Linked DNA regions of Homo sapiens: regions 1, 3 and 4 are each linked to region 2. Evidence: fine-mapped expression QTL. A gene starts in region 2. Each other region holds a variant in brackets. All regions are shown on one strand. Distances are from middle to middle.

The links. PIP is the estimated chance that this variant, and not a neighbour inherited with it, causes the effect. A credible set is the group of variants that fine-mapping cannot tell apart.
Region 1: its variant is the best candidate, but not a certain one, in a credible set for the expression of DAGLA in whole blood (INTERVAL, PIP 0.67).
Region 3: its variant is the best candidate, but not a certain one, in a credible set for the expression of DAGLA in blood mononuclear cells (TOPMed, PIP 0.70).
Region 4: its variant is the best candidate, but not a certain one, in a credible set for the expression of DAGLA in whole blood (INTERVAL, PIP 0.79).

What each region holds. Positions count from the first base shown.
Region 1 is chr11:61,655,853-61,660,995 of GRCh38, forward strand. No RefSeq gene overlaps it. Among named protein-coding and RNA genes, the nearest start is that of DAGLA, 22 kb to the right of the region's middle. The variant T/C (reference allele first, on the strand shown) is at 2,140.
Region 2 is chr11:61,677,632-61,682,774 of GRCh38, forward strand. It overlaps DAGLA (diacylglycerol lipase alpha), which reads left to right and starts at 2,760. Exons shown (of 20, transcript NM_006133.3): 1 at 2,760-2,873. RefSeq lists an enhancer at 4,957-5,143.
Region 3 is chr11:61,740,096-61,745,238 of GRCh38, forward strand. DAGLA (diacylglycerol lipase alpha) reads left to right here. Exons shown (of 20, transcript NM_006133.3): 18 at 368-497; 19 at 1,067-1,254; 20 at 3,437-5,143. The coding sequence ends at 4,394. Among named protein-coding and RNA genes, the nearest start is that of MYRF, 10 kb to the right of the region's middle. RefSeq lists an enhancer at 340-913. The variant G/C (reference allele first, on the strand shown) is at 2,022.
Region 4 is chr11:61,726,448-61,731,590 of GRCh38, forward strand. It overlaps DAGLA (diacylglycerol lipase alpha), which reads left to right. Exons shown (of 20, transcript NM_006133.3): 7 at 1,706-1,840; 8 at 2,484-2,561; 9 at 4,870-4,994. Among named protein-coding and RNA genes, the nearest start is that of MYRF, 24 kb to the right of the region's middle. The variant T/C (reference allele first, on the strand shown) is at 2,832.

The DNA of each region.
Region 1 (5,143 bases), 22 kb before region 2:
TATAGATTAACAGAGTCTCAAGGCAGAAGAATTTTTCTTAGTACATAACAAAATGGAGTCTCCTATGTCTACTTCTTTCTACACAGACACAGTAACAATCTGATCTCTCTTGCTTTTCCCCACACCCTTCTCCCCTGCCCAACTCCACGCTCAGGTGGAAGCTGATTTTCTTTTCTTTCTATTTGAGACAGAGTCTCGCTCTGTTGCCTAGGCTGGAGTGCAGTGGCATGATCTTGGTCAGCTCACTGCAACCTCCGCCTCCCAGGTTCAAGCAATTCTTCCACTCAGCCTCCTGAGTAGCTGGGATTACAGGTGCACACTACCACGCCCGGCTAAGTTTTGTATTTTTGTAGAGATGGGGTTTCGCCATGTTGGCCAGGCTGGTCTTGAACTCCTGACTTCAGGTGATCTGCCCGCCTCGGCCTCCCAAAGTGCTGGAATTACAGGTGTGAGCCACTGCGCCTGGTCTAGAAGCTGATTTTCTAGAGGCATCTTCAAGACCCAGGAACTTCAGGACTGAGTTTCTAATGAAGAGAAGAATAGGAAGTCCTTGGGGACAGTCAGAAATGGAGGTGAAGGTACAGGGGGTGTGGGGTGGTGAGGGTGCAGGGGTGCGGGGTGGTGAGAGTGCAGGGGGTGCGGGGAGGTGAGGGTGCAGGGAGTGCGAGGTGGTGAGGGTGCAGGGGCGCGGGGTGGTGAGGGTGCAGGGAGTGAGGGATGGTGAGAATGCAGGGGGGTGCGGGGTGGTGAGGGTGCAGGGGGTGCAGGGTGGTGAGGGTACAGGGGGTGCAGGGAGGAGAGGGTGCAGGGGTGCAGGGTGGTGAGGCAGCATTCCAGACAGAGGGAACAGCATGGGCAAAGGAGAGGAGGCTGGATGCAAAATGAGAGGGGAGGAGTGAGCTGAACTGATGCTGTGCCCTGCACATAGCTCAAGGGACAAACGTAGATCATGGGGAACGTGGGGCCACATGAGTGTTTCAAGCTGAGAAGTATTGATATGCTGGGAGCATCTCCTGGGGCCACTCTGTGGAGGACAGGTCCAGGCCAGAGGCCTGGGAGCAAGAGATTAGCAATGGGGTCGTGAACCCAGAACACTTATAGGGAAGAGGAAAAAGCGATTCCAAAGACTAAAGGGCAGCAGCGGCCTGCACCTCTGGGCACTTCATCTCAGACGCAAATCACTCCAGGTTGCCGAGAGCTCAGAAATGGATTTCTTGAATTATGCAAAGGTAGAGAAGTCAGACCCAACCCCCGCCCCCCATTACAAATATTTTGTAATGTTCCCTTCACCAAGCTGAAATGAAATTCATAAATAAACTAACCTACCCTCACACATGCTTTAAAAAAAAAATCAATGATATCCTAACTATAATATGAAGGAGAAATAAAAGGAGGGTAATTTCTAATAAAATAATATAAATTTCAGGATGAAAATCTGCAGGCAGCCTGGGCGTGGTGGCTCATGCCTGTAATCCTAGCACTATGGAAGTCTGAGGTGGGCGGATCACCTGAGGTCAGGAGTTCGAGACCAGCCTGGCCAACATGGTGAAACCCTGTCTCTCCTAAAACTACAAAAATTAGCCAGGCGCGGTGGTGGGCGCCTGTAATTCCAGCTACCTGGGAAGCTGAGGCAGGAGAATCGCTGGAACCTGGGAGATGGAGGTTGCAGCGAGCCAAGATTGTGCCACTGCACTCCAGCCTGGGCAACAGAGTGAGACGCCATCTCAAAAAAAAAAAAAAAAAAAAGAAAAAAGAAAAAGAAAGAAAATCTGCAGGCTGACTACAGCCAGAGATGAGGTGGCCCCACACTTGCTCCTAGAGGTGGGGCCACGGAGACCATGGCGGCCACAAGGCAGATGGACACAGGTAGTTGTGATGGTGATTCAGACCCCACAGGCGGTGCTGTTGCCAGTGACATGAAATGGGCAACGAGTCTTGGCCAAATTCCAAGCAAAACAAAGGACAATCTTCTCTTGTATACACAATAGTCATGTTCCTAGAAAATTCTGTGTATGTTGAAAGCATGCAAAAGTTATTTATTTTGTGTTTATATAAAAACAGGTCTCTGTCTCCCATTTTGACAAAGAAAAATGCCCTTGCAGATTTCCCAGACTCCTCTGAGGGGCCGTCTTGGCCTCA[T/C]TGGGTGTCATTGTCTTAGAGCCTTTTCTGTAATTACAGCAGCTGAGACCAGAATGCAGGTGCCCCGTAAAACCAATCTGCATATTCTTCTGGTGGCTGAGAGGCGGGCGGGAGGCTGTGGAACTTAGAGGACAGTTGGGAGAAGGGTCCAGAGAGGTGGGAAGTGAGCAGCCCCCAAGAAATGGCAACAGGCCAAGGCCAGAGGAGATGGCAGGCTGCTGAGACGCTTCCTGGGGTGGGGACAGACAAAAGGTGCTAAACTGTAAATCTGTAATCCCCCCTCTGCTGTTCCCAATTCGTCCATAAAAGTCAGTTACACAGGCTGGGTGCCTTGGCTAATGCCTGTAACCCCACCACTTTGAGAGGCCAACATGGGTGGATCACCTGAGGTCAGGAGTTCGAGACCAGCCTGACCAATATGGTGAAACCCTGTCTCTACTAAAAATACAAAAATTAGCCAAGCATGGTGGTGCACACCTGTAGTCCCAGCACTTGGGAGACTGAGACAGGGGAATTGCTTGAACCTGGGAGACAGAGGTTGCAGTGAGCAGAGATTGCACCACTGCACTACACTGGGTGACAGAGCCAGATTCGGTCTCAAAAAAAAAAAGGTCAGTTACACACTATAGTGCTTGGAGGGGGATCAATAAAAATGATGGCTCATATTCCCTAACTAACTTGCTGATGCTTTACTCACACTAACTCATGTGACCTGCAGCAAGGCCTAAGAGGTAGGGGCCACACTTACCCCCAGTTTATAATGAGAAAACCAAAGCCTAGAGAGATGGAGACCATTGCCCAAGGCCAATCAGCTCATCAGTTGCAGAGCAAGACTTTGAACCCAGGCAGTCTGGCTCCTGTGGCCCCTGTTTGATCACCCCACTAGCAAGGGCCAGACCTGTGCTCTAGTGAAGCATTGCGAAGGGAAATCGCAGCAGTATGGAGGGAGCTGGGGCGGGGTTGAAGAAATCTGGGCTAAGAGGTAACAGGAGATCATAGGCATTCACTGGAGATTCTCAAAAACATTGAGAAGGATGCTAGCCTTCCCTGGTATGAAGGACAGAGACAGCCATTTTCACTGGATCTTACAAGGAAGGGTGACTCCAGGGAGGTGGAAGATCAGAAGCATCCTGTCCCAATGGAAACTCCAAAATGGCCATGTTGGTTTACATCCAGGGCCCATCTGAACTCTGTTTGTTTCTGAACTCTTAAATTTCAACAGCTTCACCTATTTCCATCCCATTTGTTAATAGCTGTATTTTAATGTATTCATTGGCTGAGAAAATACAGCACAAAAGACTACTTTGAATTCAGAAATGCTTTCAGTGAATTTGAATGTTATTAATCACAGTGGCATCCACATTCATTTGAAAAACATTACATCTGTAGAAGCCAAATGCTTTCCAGCGACAGTGCTTGGGGCACTTATGGCCAATGCTGAGTAAAAGGCATAGGTGGAAACTAGGAAGAGGCAAGAAAGAAGTGACTGATGCACCAGCGCCAGAATCCCCCAGGACCCAGCTCAACCCCCTGGGGTGGCTCAGGGTCACTACCACAGTCCTGATCCATGTCACCTACTCCCTGCTGGTATATGTGCTGAGAAAAGGCTTTGATTGGGCCATCCTAGTGCCACTCATTATGGAGCAACTCCATGGGGCAGAGCTTAGGCCAGCCCCCACCAAGAGGCTAGCTGACCTCCTGTCCAGCCCAAATGGAGGCGCTGGACAATTGCAGGTCAGTCCAGGGCAATCACCTGTTCCCAGTGGGGCCGTTGCGAGGGATGGATGAAGTGTCAGAGGCGTTTGAACCAGAGCAACTCCATCTTGAATAGGGGCTGGGTAAAATAAGGCTGAGATCTACTGGGCTGCATTCCCAGATGGTTAGGCATTCTAAGTCATAGGATGAGATAGGTTGACACAAGATACAGGTCATAAAGACCTTGCTGATAACACGGTCTGCAGTAAAGAAGCCGGCTAAAACCCACTAAAACCAAGATGGCAATGAGGCTGACCTCTGGTGGCCCTCACTGGTACACAGTTTACAAATGCCATGGCAATGTCAGGAAGTTACCCTATATGGTCTAAAAAGGGGAGGCATGAATAATCCACCCCTTATTTAGCATATCCTCAAGAAATAACCAGTTGGGCATGGTGGCTCACTCCTCTAATCCCAGCACTTCGGGAGGCTGAGGTGGATGGATCACCTGAGGTCAGAAGTTCGAGACCAGCCTGGCCAACATGGTGAAACCCTGTCTCTCCTAAAAATACAAAAAATTAGCCTTGTGTGGTGGCGGGTGCCTGTTATCCCAGCTACTCGGGAGGCTGAGGCAGGAGAATCTCCTGCACCTGGGAGGCAGAGGTTACAGTGAGTGAGATCACAGCATTGCACTCCAGCCTGGGCAACAAGAGCGGAACTCCATCTCAAAAAAAATAAAGAGGCCGGGCATGGCGGCTCACGCCTGTAATCCCAGCACTTTGGGAGGCTGAGGTGGGAGGATCACGAGCTCAGGAGATAGAGACCATCCTGGCTAACACGGTGAAACCCCATGTCTACTAAAAAAATAAAAAACATCAGCCGGGCATGGTGGCGGGTGCCTGTAGTCCCAGCTACTCGGGAGGCTGAGGCAGGAGAATGGCGTGAACCCAGGAGGCGGAGCTTGCAGTGAACCGAGATCTCGCCACTGCACTCCAGCCTGAGCAACAGAGCAAGACTCTGTCTCAAAAAAAAAGAAAAAAAAAAAGAAAAAGAACCATAAAAATGATTAACCGGCAGCCCTTTTATTCTGTTATTTTTCTAATAAACTTGCCTTCACTTTACTCTATGGATTCGCCTCAAATTTTTTCTTGCACAAAATCCAAGAACCCTGCCTTGGGGTCTGGACCGGGGCCCCTTTCCGGTAACAAAAGGAGCAGGTTGGGGCTACAGTCTTCAAAAGGTGGCTGGAAAATTGGCAAAATTGAAAGGAATGACAATACCAACTGTTGGCAAGGATGTACGCAACTGA
Region 2 (5,143 bases):
AGTGCTGGGATTACAGGCGTGAGCCACCACGCTGGGCCTATTTTTTTTTTTTTTTTTTTGAGACGGAGTCTCACTCTGTTGCCCAGGCTGGAGTGCAGTAGCGGGATCTCGGCTCACTGCAACCTCCACCTCCCGGGTTCAAGCAACTCTCCTGCCTCAGCCTCCCGAATAGCTGGGATTACAGGTGCCCATCACCATGCCCAGCTGATTTTTGTATTTTTAGTAGAGATGGGGTTTCACCATGTTGGTCAGGCTGGTCTTGAACTCCTGACCTCAGGTGATCCACCCGCCTCAGCCTCCCAAAGTGCTGGGATTACAGGTGTGAGCCACCGCACCCGGTCACCTAACATTTATAATAGTGGTGTTTCTCAGCCTTTCATGTGCATTCAAATCACCTGGGAATCTTGTTGCCAACCTGAGATTCTTGGGCCTGAGATTATGCATTCCCGTTAAGCTTCTGGGTGGTGCCAATGTCTCACTCTGAGTAGCAAGAGTTCAAAGGATTTGGTGATGGTAAAAGTAACCCTTTAATTCAGTTAAATGACCAGATGGGATCAATCACCTTGAAGATCTTGAAATAATAGTAGCCTCATGACATCAAGTGTGAAGGTGACTGTTGGTACTTGTCTGGTGAAGACAACTTTGGAGGAATGGGAAGAAGGACTGGCGTGTGTCGGGACACATGTGTGCACATGGACACATGTGAGTTTGTGTACATGGGACAGCTAAGGGATGGATCCGTAGTAGACAGCCTTTTTTTTTTTTTTTTTTTGAGATGGAGTCTGGCTCTCTTGCCCAGGCTAGAGTGCAATGGCACGATCTCGGCTCACTGCAACCTCTGCCTCCCACGTTCAAGTGATTCTTCCGCCTCAGCCTCCCGAGTAGCTGGGATTACAGGCACCTGCCATCATGCCAGGCTAATTTTTGTACTTTGGTAGAGATAGGGTTTCACCATGTTGGCCAGACTGGTCTCGAACTCCTGACCTCAGGTGATCCACCTGCCTCTGCCTCCCAAAGTGCTGGGATTACAGGCATGAGCCACCGCCCCTGGCCGACAGTCTTTGGACTGGCTGTTCAGGTCATGATTCTCCTCCTCTGGGAGTGTCTCTCAACGGGGAAAAGTGGACTGACATGTTTGTATCACAAAGCACTTTCTGCCCTGGCCATAGCTGATTGACCGTGGCCTGATCTGGACTAATAAGATTCTTTTTTTCTGGGAATCGGGAACTTTGAACCAAGAGACATCCAATCTGGCAGTTTTGATTCTGATTAATGGCAATGATCTAGAAAGAAGATCCCTAAACTGATACTGCTACAGTTGTCCCTTAAAGCCTCCCCTGATCTCTGCCCTTCCTGAGCCTTGAGGAATTCAACTCCTCCTTGAATCCCCTGAGGTGCCCCACTGGGTATATGCGCCCACTCCTCATTTTCCTTGTTACCTACGTGAGTTTGCTTTCTAAATAATCACAGGTAACACAGAACTCCTTCCAGAAGTGGCTCCATCTGCTTCAATAAAAGGCAGTCCTGGCCTCACAGTCTCATTTCCAACCCAAATGTCCACGTAATTTTCAGACCGAGGCTTCTGCTCAAGCCGGGCACCCCACTACCCACACCTCCTTGTTCACCTATGGCTCCCACTTCTACTGAACTGCGCGATCACTGTGATTTTGGGGGTGGCAACAGGGCCTAGGAAACATTTTAGAGGCACTTCTCTTGCCTGAAAGAAAACGTTCTTCCCCTTTTTGTCTCTGATGAATCTTTACTGGATCTTTGGGACCCAGCTGAGTCATCCCGACCTGCAGACTGGACTCCCATCCCCAGGCTTAAATTCCTTTCCAAGGGCTCTGTCTGTCCTCTCGGCTTAGCTTCTGTGTTAAAACCCCCTCCATCTGCGTCTCCTCCCCAGCAGAATGAGCTCCTTGAAGTCAGGGCCCGCCTTCTGCTCCTCTCTGTGCTCCACTCCCCCAGTTCAGCACAGTGCTCCCAGGGAGGTGTAAGCGACTTACGGTGAATGAAAGGGCGTGAAGGGGAACAGGAGGGGCGGTTTTCTTCATTTACCAGAAATTCAAAATTGACCAAGTAAACCCCTTTGGAGACCAGGCACGATGCTGGGCACTGGGAACGGGGGTAGGGGTGGGGGGTGGGGGGGTGGTAGGGAGGAGGGGGTACCCAGGGTACCCACGGGCTCTGTCGCCCGTGGGGAAGGATGGGCATTTACCCTTCCCATTCATCAGGATGGGAGGGCCACGGACTCCCCCCACGGCAGTGCCGGGTAGACCCCTGCACCACACCGTGCCAAGGCCCTTTCTCACAGTCACGCCAGGAACTCTAGCCATGCTCTGACTTCTCAAGCAGAGTTCAGTCACCCCGAGGAGGTGGGACCCGTCTCTCTCCTCCCCACAAATGAACCAGTTCTCCAGTGATCCTACTTCCTTTTTTCCCTCTCCCACGCTAAAACTGGTCACGAGGGACCTAAAGGAGGGGCAGGCACCCAGGCGGCTCCCTTCCCCGCACGCATCGCGGCCAGTCCAGCCCCTCCCGGCCGCCCACGGGACCCCAGCCGAGCCTGAGCCAGGCGCCCACCGCCCCCACGCGCAGGGCCGGCGCCCGCGGAAGACTCGGCTCTCCCTGGCCTCGACGCCGCTCCCCTCCCTGGCGCCAGGGGGCGCTGCCTCCCCACGACCGTCGCCATGGTCACCGCTGGCGGCGGAGAGGGGTTTACGTAAAGGACGCAGCGTCCCCCGGGGGGCGGAGGCGGCCTTCGCGCCGGCGCCGGCGCCCTGCGGAAGCGGCGTTAGTGAATCGGGGCCTTGGGGAGCCCAGGATGGAGGTGGCGGTCGCGGCGGCGGGCCGAGCCCTGCGGCGGGCGGGAGGTAAGGGGGGCCTCCGGCGCGGCGGGCCGGTCCTGGGCGCGGGCGCGGTGCGAGCGGCGCGGCGGGCTGGGCAGTGTCCAGGGCGCGCGGTGGCCGGCCCGACGGGTCGGCGGGCGGAGTTGCAGCTGCCACGCGCGCCCGTGGCAGGTGTGAGGTCTGTGGAGCCCCTGGCACCAGCGTGGGGATGGTGACACGCGTGGCACGGGCGTGGGCAACGTGGGTCCGGCACAGGCGGCGTGGTTTTCCTGGAACGGGTCTCAGAAGACTCGCCTCCACCTTGGTGCGGTGGTGGCCACGCAGGTGTGAGGTGGTGCAGCTGTCTGCACAGGTAGGTGATGGGCACGGCCTTCGGACTGGTTATGGGATAGGTGGCCAGCTCGTGCCGGCATGGTGGTGCCGCTAGCATGGGTGTGAGGAAGTGCTGCCATTGCTTGGGTGTTGGGATGGTTCTGGCCTTGGGCTTGACATGATCTGGGGTGATAGCACTGGGGGCTTGAAGAATTGGTGTTCTCAGCATGGCTAGAGTTCCTGGCATGACTGTGAGAAAGGGCCTTGGCACGGTGTGGTGCGGGGGGCTACCCGGCACTGCCGCGGGGGGAGTCCGTGGCCCTCCCATCCTGATGAATGGGAAGGGTAAATGCCCATCCTTCCTCACGGGCGATGAAGGGGACACTGCCTCTGTCATGGGGGTCCAGTTTTAATGCCTGTTGGGTACACTGGACTGAGGAGGGCAGAAGGCTGGGAGAAGGTTGGTGTCCTTTATAATGGGCATAAACAAGAGATGCCAGGAGAAGCTTCTACCACAAGGGCCCTGATGGTAACCCAGATAGAGACCTTCCAGGCACTACCGTTGTCCTGGGCTAAGGTAGAGAGAACCATTCATCTAGCTTTTCATCTAGCTTTGGGAATGAAGGGAGGGGTGGATGATTTTCAGTGGTGATCGGTGTCCCAGAATATGTCCTGAGAAGCAAGCAGGACCAAGAGGTAACCCGGGTCAGCGAGTGAGGGAGTGGTATGGCGCACCATCTATCTGTAGTCACGGGGTCCTGCCTTCTCCCTGGGTTGATGGGTTCACTCCAGGGTATCTGGGAGTTGCCTCTCTTCTTTGATGCTGGGGAGCCTTTGGGTCCAGAGGATTGGATCGATTGGGGTATGCTTGAAAGATGATTCTGCAGCCACTGGGAATCTGCTGGGGCCACCGGGACTCCCACCCCCAGGCTTAAATTCCTTTCCAAGGGCTCTGTCTGTCCTCTCTGCTTAGCTCCTATGTTAAAACCCCTCCATCTGCGCTGAGATTGTGTTTGCTCTCACCAGTCCTTTGGGAAGCTTTGGGTGAAGGTCTCACTCAGCATCACCTAGTGCCTTACTTTACAGAGAAGCAATTTGCAGCTCCTCCTAGAGAAGTCTTACAGTGTAGGGGAAATCTTCAGTTCTTTGTGGATCTCTTGGGGGAGTGGGATCAGTGGTAGAAGAATCACAGGGTTGAGCTTGTGCTGGGGAAGGCACTTATGAGTCCAAAAAGATGATGTTGAGGGTAGGGTGGCAGGTGGTCGCCAAATTGCCAAGGTGGGTGCTTGGAGATGCTGATGAGTTCCCTATAACCGGAGCACTGTCCGATGCCTTTGGAGCCATATCACTTTAATTCCAGTGTTGGCTGTGTGACCTTCAGCAGGTGACTTCACCAATCAAGGCATGTCACATGGTGGTCTGGTAGTAAAGAATGAAAGGAAATGGTGCACGTGGAAACACTTTGCAAACAGCGAAAGACTGTACAAAGGTCAGAGAGTCTCATCAAGTAAAGAGACCAGGGCTGGAGGCAGGAGCCATAGGAAATGGTGGCACGGGATGTGATTGGGAGGAAGGGAGCCGGAAGGTTGAGGGCCTGTCATAGGGAATTAGAGGCCCTGAGCGCACATGCTCCCGGTGGGGGCAAGTGGGATCTGTTGACACTGTGAGTCAGCTGCTGAGCTGGAACCAGGCCCCCGGTCTCCAGAGGACAGTCCTGAGCATGGCCCCGGCAGCTGTGAAGTCCTGCAGGAGTGGCCCAAGCAGGAGGAAGCACTTTGCTTGGGCAGCAGACGTGCCTCATTGCCAGGGTAGGTCTGGGAGGTGTCTGTGGCTGACAGATCTAGGGTACCTGTGTGGGAGGAAGACTTGGGAAGTGTGTGTGTTTTCTCTGGAGAATTTCCTTTGGCTCTGGGTTCTGAGAACGGGGGTGGGGAGCAGTCACATCAGCGTCTTTTGGGCTGTGGCCTGAAGGAAATGAAGTG
Region 3 (5,143 bases), 62 kb after region 2:
TGGGTAGACCTTTCCCACTGTGCTCCTTCAGACGGCTGGGCCCTGGCTCCTCCCTCCAGGGTCGGCTTCCTCCCCTGACACAGCTGGTGAGCTGGGCCGTGCAGCAGGTGGAGCAGGTGTGGCCCAGGCCAAAAGCAGGTCGAAGGCTGTGGAGGGACCATGGCTGAGGCTCGAGGTCAGCCTTTCCCAGGCTGAGGGCAGGGCAGGAGCCAGGCCAGGGAACAGAGCCCTGCTGCCAGGCAGGCCAGGGGCCTCCAAACCATGCCAGCTCTGCTGAGCAGGGCAGAGAACAGAGCCAGGAGGCCCTGGCACCGAGGGCCAGGCCACCACCCCACCCTTAACTCCCCTCTGTCCATGTCCCTCTCAGCTGCTGTGAGCAGGAGGAGCCCACATACTTTGCCATCTGGGGCGACAACAAGGCCTTCAATGAGGTGATCATCTCGCCAGCCATGCTGCATGAGCACCTGCCCTATGTGGTCATGGAGGGGCTCAACAAGGTGAGGCAGCTCCCGGCAGGGTACCACCAGGGAATAAGGCACTGTCACCCCATCAGAACCCCGTAAGCACCATCAGATCACTGCCCGATTTTACAGACAAGGGTGCTGGGGCTCAGAGAAGTAGGTAGCTGGGCCAGAAAGCCCCACTCAAATACTTCAACCTCACACCCCTGGCTCTGTCCACATCACCACGTTGCCCCATGGTGGGGAGGAGATAAGGAGACTCCCAGGGGCCTGTCCCTGAGGCAGGCTCAGCTCAGAGGCCCGGAAGGCCACCTGGCCCTTAACAGATGAATGGGCAAGCAGCGACAGCCACAGCCATCCCCTGGCTGCGGAAAGGCTGAAGGCAGGTAGGGCAGGAGCACTCGCCGGGCTGTGGGGCGAGTCGTGACCAGATGGGCAAGTCTCAGGCCTTGGGGAGTGGTGACCTCAGGAGGAGGAGAGTGGGACCCAAGTGACTCCATGAGGCTTTGCTTGGCCTGAGAGGCCTGGGCCCTGGCTCCACATCGGCCCCACGATGGGGCCTGATGTCCCTCCACCACCCCCAGCCTCCTCTGTCCTGTCCTCAGGTGCTGGAGAACTACAACAAGGGGAAGACCGCTCTGCTCTCTGCAGCCAAGGTCATGGTGAGCCCTACCGAGGTGGACCTGACTCCTGAGCTCATCTTCCAGCAGCAGCCACTCCCCACGGGGCCGCCCATGCCCACTGGCCTTGCCCTGGAGCTGCCGACTGCAGACCACCGCAACAGCAGCGTCAGGTGAGCCTTGGCCACTCCCAGCCCCACCCCAGGGTGAGTGTGGTTCAGAGCACATAGACTTGTGTGCACATGCATTTTGTGCATGCACTGGGCTCAGCTCTGCACACGTGCACAGGAGGGGTCAAACTCACCCTCTGTGCTCTAGGGCTCTCTTGCTGTGCTCCAGCTGTCCCACAGCCTGCTGTCCCTGAATCCTACATGAGCCAGGGGAGGCACACAGACCCACAAACCCTGGGCCACAAAAGCACAGATTCACTCTTTTTTTTTTTTTTTTTTTTTGAGACGAAGTCTCGCTCTTTTCCCCCAGGCCGGAGTGCAATGGCGCGACCTTGGCTCACTGCAACCTCCACCTCCCAGGTTCAAGCGATTATCCTGCCTCAGCCTCCCAAGTAGCTGGGATTACAGGCGCCTGCCACCGTGCCCAGCTAATTTTTGTATTTTTAGTAGAGATGGGATTTCACCATGTTGGCCAGGCTGGTCTTGAACTCCTGACCTCAGGTGATCTGCCCGCCTCAGCCTCCCAAAGTGCTGGGATTATAGGGGTGAACCACCATGGCCGGCCTGCACAGATTCACTCTTACACACTTAGACGCAAACAGATGGACACCCATTTACTTACATATTTGTATTGAAGCTTACACACATACATGTGCACACAATTATTAGTTATAAGTACACAGGTCACCCCCTACAGACATGCACATGTACAAGACACACACCAAGACAAAGGTGGAGACACATATACAAGGACACATGTGGACAGGCAG[G/C]TGCTCATGGAAATGCATGAATACACCTGTGCACAGACCCAGACACACAAGCCAGCTGACATACACAGACGTCTGGTCTACACACTCATACACATGAACAGAGGCGTGCACACATGCTCACAGGGGCACGCACATGGGGGCCACAGCGCCCTTGCTATTCACACACTCTTTGAGGGGTGCGAGGCTCTTAAGTGGTAGTCCTTCCAGGGGAGGATTGTCCTGCCTTTCTAGGACCTTCCCACACAGGCCCTGTGTGCTTGGTCACAGATCTGGTCAAGAGGCTGCTTCCTGGCCCTTGGTAGGGACAACTGGACGTCTCTCCCTGCCATTTGTGCATTTCCTGTGGCAGCTGCACAACCCGATGAAGAAGCCAGTGTCCATTTCCGGCTGCGGTGACTGCTGCAAGCCACCCACTCCCTGCCCTGTCACTCATTCCCTGCAGGCTGGTCTGCGGAGCCAGGGGCACTAGGCTCCCCACCCAGCAGAGGGCTGCGGCCCATGGGAGACAGGAGGAGACCCGGATGAGGAAGGAAGTGATGAGATCCCTGGGAGTGGCACCCAGGGTTGCTGGCTCTGAGATTGGGGTGGAACCAGTTGGGCAGCTATGTGCAGGGCTCTCTCCCTTCCCTGTCTCCCTGCTGCCCTCTGTCCCTCCCTCCCTCCCTCCCTTCCTCCTTCCCTCCCTCCCTCCTTCCCTCCCTCTGTCTCTCTCATTCCACTGTGGCCTCATGAGTGACCTGGGGCAGGCTCATGAGTGATCTGGGGCAGCCAGTCTATCAGAGCCTCATTCTCACATTGGTACAATGACAGGGGTTCTGGTGCAGAGAACCCCAGCAGCACTCCTGAAGTCCTAGTGCTGCCAGCAGGGCCTTAGCCCCTCAGGGACCCCGCGGCTCAACCCAGCATCAACTCTTTTGTCTTCTATCTTGGGTTCTTGTGAGTTGTTTTTAAAAAATAATCATTCCTGGCTGGGCGCGGTGGCTCACGCCTGTAATCTCAGCACTTTGGGAGGCCGAGGCAGGCGGATCACCAGGTCAGCAGATTGAGACCATCCTGGCTAACATGGTGAAACCCCATCTCTACTAAAAAATACAAAAAATTAGCCAGGCATGGTGGCGGGCACCTGTAGTCCCAGCTACTCGGGAGGCTGAGGCAGGAGAATGGCGTGAACCCAGGGCGGAGCTTGCAGTGAGCCAAGATCGTGCCACTGCACTCCAGCCTGGGCGACAGAGCGAGACTCTGTCTCAAAAAAAAAAAAAAAAAAAGAAAATAAGCATTCCCTGCTGCACATCATCAACAACTGCTAAATGAACTGTACCCTTTATTCCCTGCAAGTTCCTTTTAGCCAGGGAGCTGGGGTTCAGTCCCCTCTCCCTTCTGAGTCTTATACCCCCTGCTCTCCTCTCCCTCTGCAGGAGCAAGTCCCAGTCTGAGATGAGCCTGGAGGGCTTCTCGGAGGGGCGGCTGCTGTCGCCAGTGGTTGCGGCGGCGGCCCGCCAGGACCCGGTGGAGCTGCTGCTGCTGTCTACCCAGGAGCGGCTGGCGGCGGAGCTGCAGGCCCGGCGGGCACCACTGGCCACCATGGAGAGCCTCTCGGACACTGAGTCCCTGTACAGCTTCGACTCGCGCCGCTCCTCAGGCTTCCGCAGCATCCGGGGCTCCCCCAGCCTCCACGCTGTGCTGGAGCGTGATGAAGGCCACCTCTTCTACATTGACCCTGCCATCCCCGAGGAAAACCCATCCCTGAGCTCGCGCACTGAGCTGCTGGCGGCCGACAGCCTGTCCAAGCACTCACAGGACACGCAGCCCCTGGAGGCGGCCCTGGGCAGTGGCGGCGTCACTCCTGAGCGGCCCCCCAGTGCTGCGGCCAATGACGAGGAGGAAGAGGTTGGCGGTGGGGGTGGCGGGCCGGCCTCCCGCGGGGAGCTGGCGCTGCACAATGGGCGCCTGGGGGACTCGCCCAGTCCTCAGGTGCTGGAATTCGCCGAGTTCATCGACAGCCTCTTCAACCTGGACAGCAAGAGCAGCTCCTTCCAAGACCTCTACTGCATGGTGGTGCCCGAGAGCCCCACCAGTGACTACGCTGAGGGCCCCAAGTCCCCCAGCCAGCAAGAGATCCTGCTCCGTGCCCAGTTCGAGCCCAACCTGGTGCCCAAGCCCCCACGGCTCTTTGCCGGCTCAGCCGACCCCTCCTCGGGCATCTCACTCTCGCCCTCCTTCCCGCTCAGCTCCTCGGGTGAGCTCATGGACCTGACGCCCACGGGCCTCAGTAGCCAGGAATGCCTGGCGGCTGACAAGATCCGGACTTCTACCCCCACTGGCCACGGAGCCAGCCCCGCCAAGCAAGATGAGCTGGTCATCTCAGCACGCTAGCACCCCAGTTGCGTGGCCAGCCGGGCCCAGGCAGGAGCAGGTGGCCCTGTGGGCACCTGGTGCCTGCCCCCTGCCGGGCAGCTTTAAGGACAGACCCCCAGGGGCAGTTTAGCCTCAGGCACAGGCATCGCTGCTGAGCTGGGGGTCCGCATCCCTACCTCAGCTTAGGACCCCCAGAGCCAAGGTGGCTGGGATCTGGCCCCACAGATGGGGAAAGATGGGGAAGGGTGTGGAGTGGGGAGGAGCCTGGGCAGCCTGCTGGGTGGGCCACACTCAGCCTGACTGCCCTCCATGGGGGCATTCTGGCACCCCCTGCTCCAGGACAGGCCATGGGCAAGCTGCCTCCCATCACTGCCTGCTGGCTGCTCTCCCAGGGGCCAGGTGGAGAGCAGTGCCCCCCGACACATGTATTCTCATCTGTGGTCCAGGCCGGCATCGTCCTGGCCACCCCCCAGATCTGGTGCCTGCTGGCCGGCCCCCTGGGGTGCCCCTGCCGAGGTGGCCTGCAGTGCTGTACATGTTTACAGAAGCTGCTGGGCTTGGCTCAGGATGTGTTCTGGGCTTGCAAGCCCCCCGCCCAATCATGTGTTCAGTAGCCGTCCTCTGAGCAGGGCCCAAGGCAGCCAGGGGCCTGGAGGGGCCAGAGGAGGGTGGGGTCAGGGCCGCCCCTTCTCTGCCTTGTGCCTCTCATGCTGCCTCCTCTGCCCATGGGTCCTGGGCACCCAGGCCTGCCCTGCCTGCTGGCTACT
Region 4 (5,143 bases), 49 kb after region 2:
GGCGTTTAGCACGGTCCTAGATGGGGACACATAGCCTTCAGCACCTGGGAGCTCAGAGGAGTGACCAGAGGGCCGGACTTAATGCCAGGGCACTGCAGAAGGAAGACAGGGCCAGCTGGGGGCGGCCCCCAAGGGGAGGGAAGGGAGGCAGGCCCCGGGATCATCCAGGGGTGCCCCGCAGCGGGCAGGGACCTTAGAGATCATCTAGTCCCACCCCTCATTTTACAGATCAGGCAGCTGAGGCCCAGAGAGGTGGAGTGACTTGCTCAGCGTCCCACAGCTAGTTAGTAGCAGAGCCAGTGAGGTCAGGAGACCACTCCTCCCTGAGGCAGACAGCAAAGTGCCTTCCACGGAAGCCACCGGGAAGCCTCGAGTGGCTCCTGCCCACCAGCGTCCCCTGGTGAGCCGTAGAGTGAGTAATCAAGTGTAAGAAAGCCCCCGAGGTTCCCTGGTGGGCGGGGAGCACCCCCTTGGGTCTCTCTGGGGCGGTCTGAGGGGTCTGGGCTGCAAGGCAGGCCATGCAGAGGGCAGAGAGCCGGCCCCTGGCGGATGGAGGCTGGGGCTGCTGTGTGGAGGGCACGCCTGCCCCTCTGGGTGCACGGGCAGAGCTGGGGCTGTTGTCAGAGTCTGGGGAAAAGATAGCACATCACAGCAGAGCCCCACGGCAAAGGTCCTGTTAGACACTGATGGCCTCAGGGGGCAGGTCTGGTCCCAAGCATGTTTTGATCAGCGTGTGTTGTGTTGCTTACACATTTTAATTGGATGCCAGCATTTAAAAATCAGGGGTATTTCCATAAACTTCTGTATTTCTGAATCTGGTGAAGTGGGCCCTGGAGGGCCTCCGGTCAGCTGGAGCCGAGCAGTATCTGGCTCCGTTTGGCTCCATTCGGCATTTGAATTTGCAGCCCTTGATTTAGTCACTTACAAGTGCCAAACACTCAGGGGCGAGACCCAGTGAGACAGACTTCATTGCCATGTGGTTGTTCCCACCTCAGCGTCTCCTAACAGGTTAGGGAAGAGGCTCTGGGCTGCAGCCTGGGGCCAGGAAGGGAAGACTAAGAGGGCACCAGCCAGCAGGGCTCGCCTCCTGCCCTGAGGCCCAGACATGCACTGTCTTCAGGCCAAGGGCCTGGAGAGAAGCCATGGGGGACCACTGGGCCAGAGAGTACACCCCCTTCTAGGGCACATTGTGGGGGTCACTGAGCCAGCAGCCTGTGGGTAGCTGGGGGAGGGGCCCTGAGACCTGGCAGGCTCCACAGAGGCCTTACGAGGGACTTCCAAGGTCCCAGCTGGTGGGTCAGAGGCAGCCAGGAGCTTAGTTTGGTTTCTGTGCTGGAGAGAATGGCTAGAGGAGAAATGAGCCAGAGCCACCCGGCCTTGATTCTAGCGTCTGGGAAAGCAAAAAGGAGTGGCTCAAGTTGGCGCCTGCTCTTGGTAGACAGTGGGCACCATGCGAATTCCAAGGAGAGGAGAGGGCTGGGTGGCTACTGCCAGGTCTAGGAGCCCTGGGCAGGGCCCTCAGGGTCACAGGGCCACATGGGGTCAGGCTCAGTGGGCGCTGTGGAGGTGCTGGGGAGAACCTGTCCAGGGGACCCCGAGCAGACACCTGCTTCTGCAGCCTCCCAGCCCTGGGGGATTTACTCCTGGCCTCTCGTCCTCTCTCCTGCTCCCCTGCCACTGCCTCCTGCCTTCCTGGACCTCGTAGGATGCCTACTCAGAAATCGCCTACCTCTTTGCGGAGTTCTTCCGGGACCTTGACATTGTGCCATCCGACATCATTGCTGGCCTGGTGCTGCTCCGGCAGCGGCAGCGGGCCAAGCGCAACGCCGTGCTGGACGAGGTGAGCACCACCAGCCCCTTCTCCAGGTCACCTCTCCACACCACCCTTCTTTCAGGCCCCTTCCCTGTGGCCCCTGCAGCGGAGGGCTCGGCTCCCACGCAGCTCCCCAGTGACCACGCACTCTCTTGGACCCTGGAGGTCACCTTTACCTCTGGCTCCCCCTGCCTTCCTGAGCTTGTCCTTCGGCCAGGCTTTCCGTGACTACTACTCTAGGGACTTTCTGGGTCGTGCATGGCTGCCTCTGGGGCTGGCCCTCAAAGGACTTCTAACCACAGGCTTAGTGGACGTGGTGAGCTCCCGAGTCGGTCTTCTGCGTGGCCGCTCCGCCCACCCCACATCCCCACCAGCACACCAACCCCAGTTAGGGTTTCTCAGTGTCTCATACAAAATACCTTTCGCCTGCTGTGGGCCAGGAATGTCCTCAGGGGCTTGATGTTTTGGGTAGAAGGGGAGCATCTGGAAATATGGGGAAACCTCAGATTTTGGAAAAGTGGCTGAATCTTGGAAGAACTAGAAGCTGCATGCTCGTTTGGGCTTCTCGGCCTTTGGGAAGCAGGCGGACGCCAGGGCCTGGGCCCCCTTTCCCAGCCATGCAGCCGGGCCTGGGCCAGTGATTGTCCTTCTTCACCTGCCGGTCTTACAGGCAAACAATGACATCTTGGCCTTCCTGTCTGGGATGCCGGTGACCAGAAACACCAAGTACCTCGACCTCAAGAATTCAGTGAGTCAGACATCAACTCTCACCCCACCCCGTCCCCATCCCTCCCACTCTGCCACAATGACCTAAGCAAACTCCTCCCAGCTGCCCTTGCAGTGCCAGCCACATTGCCCCTGCCCGGTCTCCCCCCGGCTCTCCAGAGAGCCTCTCTGCTCAGATCATGCCCCTCACGAGAACCACCCACTTCACACCGGTTCGACAGACAAATCCCCTGAATTCCTTTACCAAGTTCAGAAGTGTCTGGTCCTGGCCTCTTGAGATGACAGAGCACTT[T/C]ACCAGGGTGAGCTGCTAGCATTTTTGCTGCTGCTGCTGCTGTTAATGAAACGCAATGGGCGTAGTACTTGGTTTCCAAGCTTTTTTAGTAGTGGAACCTTTTCTCAATCGCCTTTCGTAGAAATCCAGTGTGTAATAGGGAAAGGTGGTGCCAGTAACATGGTGGGAGAACCCCAGCCCAGGGCCCAGCACACAGCCCAGGGCCCAGTACAGCCCAGGGCCCAGTACAGCCCAGGCTGAAACCACAGCTGGCAGCCGGGAGAAACAGGCCCTGCCTCAGGAAGCAAATGGCTGGAGCGTGCATCTGCTCTGATGCCTGTCGCTGCGACCTCCAGCAGGCCCCTCATCCCCTCTGAGCTGGATCCTGAATCTGTGAAATGACACTAGGCACACCTTCTACCAGAGCTGTGCTGAGAGGACACGAGCCATTCCCATCACAGTGCCAGGAAGCCTCGGTGCCAGCCAGGATGCTGATGGAAAGGATTCCGTCTCTTAGAAATCTCAGTCCTTTAGGCCACGTGTGCTGCCTTGTGCCTGCAATCCCAGCACTTTGGGAGGCCGAGGTGGGAGGATTGCTTGAGGCCAGGAGTTTGAGACCAGCCTGGGCAACATAGTGAGACCCTGTCTCTACAAAAAAAAAAAAAATTAGCCAAGCATGGTGGCACATGCCTGTGACCCCAGCTACTTGGGAGGCTGAGGTAGGAGGATTGCTTGAGCCCAGGAGATCAGGGCTGCAGTGAGCTATGATTGCCACTGCACTCCAGCTGCACTGTCCCTTAAAAAGAAGAAAAAAAAAAAACCAACACTCAGTCCTCTAGAAAAGCCTCAGTCCTCCCTGCCTGTCCCTACTCCCCACTAAAGCAGGCATTTGTATCCTCTCTAAAAATAGCCACATCCATAGTAAGTGCCCCAAACCAGCCCATTTCTGCTTGCCAGGCTCTGCCCTGGCTGTTCTCACCACCTTCTCCCTCCCACTCCTCACAGGGAGCGGGGAGGGCAGGCAGCTGTGACTCCCATCAAGTGACTCCCATCGAGGTGCCAGGGTCACACCTGCCACCTGGCAGAGGCTGCCAGGGCCCACCCCGCCCCCAGGGCTGCAGGGAGCTTCTGACAGGGAGAGGATAATTACCTCTCCACTCTCGTTCCTGAAGAGCAGCTGAGCTGGCCAGGGATGTTTCCACCCCTCCGGGCCCTGATCAAGGTGCCACCTATTTCACTTCACAAGGTGACTAACCACCCTCCTTAACTTTTACAAGGTGACTAATTCCCTCTCCCGGTGCCTGGGGCACTCGGGAAAGACTGGAAGCTGGCAGACACTTTGCTGGGGCACCCCTGCCTCTTCCTCCCTCCACCCCAGCAGCCAATAACCTCCTCAGCATCAACAGTGGCTGCTGGGCCTCAGACACACTGGCTTTCAAACTGGTGCCTTTCTCCCAAGAGATCCCAGTCTCCCACCAACGCAGCCCCTGCCCGGAGCCCTGGGAGCCTGCAGCTGGCTGAGTCAAGTTGAAGGCTCCCAATATTTGCAGTCAAAGAACCCAAGGGCCAGAGATTTGGTGATTGGTCTCCTGGCCTAGCGTGGCTGCCCTGTTGCCCAAGGCCCACACACGCCGCCCAGCTGGAGGGCTGGGGCCTCTCAGGGCTACATTTTCCCAGCATCAAGGGCCCTTCTCAGGGCTGATTGCCGAGGTGGGGGGATTACTACTCACATCCCTCAACTCTTCCCTTCTCTGGAAAACAGGCAAGGAAATGGACCAAGTGATTTTCTGTCCCCAAATCATTAATTCTGAGACTGGAGCAACAGGACAGGTCTCTGAGGATTCGTGTCCTGGTTGCATGGAGATAATTAGGGAAATGCAATTATCACCTGGAGGAGTGTCCTTCCTCCAAGGCCTGGGCCCCACACCTCAACAGGGGACCAGCAACCCCTCCCTGCCAGGGGTTGGGTCCGCAGGCTCCCACCCTGGGGAACTGCTGGGCCCTGAGGCTGTAGGCAGGAAGGGCAGGAGGTGACCGCCCTCTGCCTCCTCTCTTCTAGCAAGAGATGCTCCGCTACAAAGAGGTCTGCTACTACATGCTCTTTGCCCTGGCTGCCTACGGGTGGCCCATGTACCTGATGCGGAAGCCCGCCTGCGGCCTCTGCCAACTGGCTCGGTCCTGCTCGTGAGTACCCCTGTCCCATCCCCCAGCGATTGCACCTCTCCTCCCGGGTGGTGTGTGAGGAAGGGCTACCGGGCTGCGCCTACTGCTTTGCCCTGAATGGCTTCTTTTCTACACCTTCTCTGGGCCTCAACCTTTCTAGTTCTGTGTTA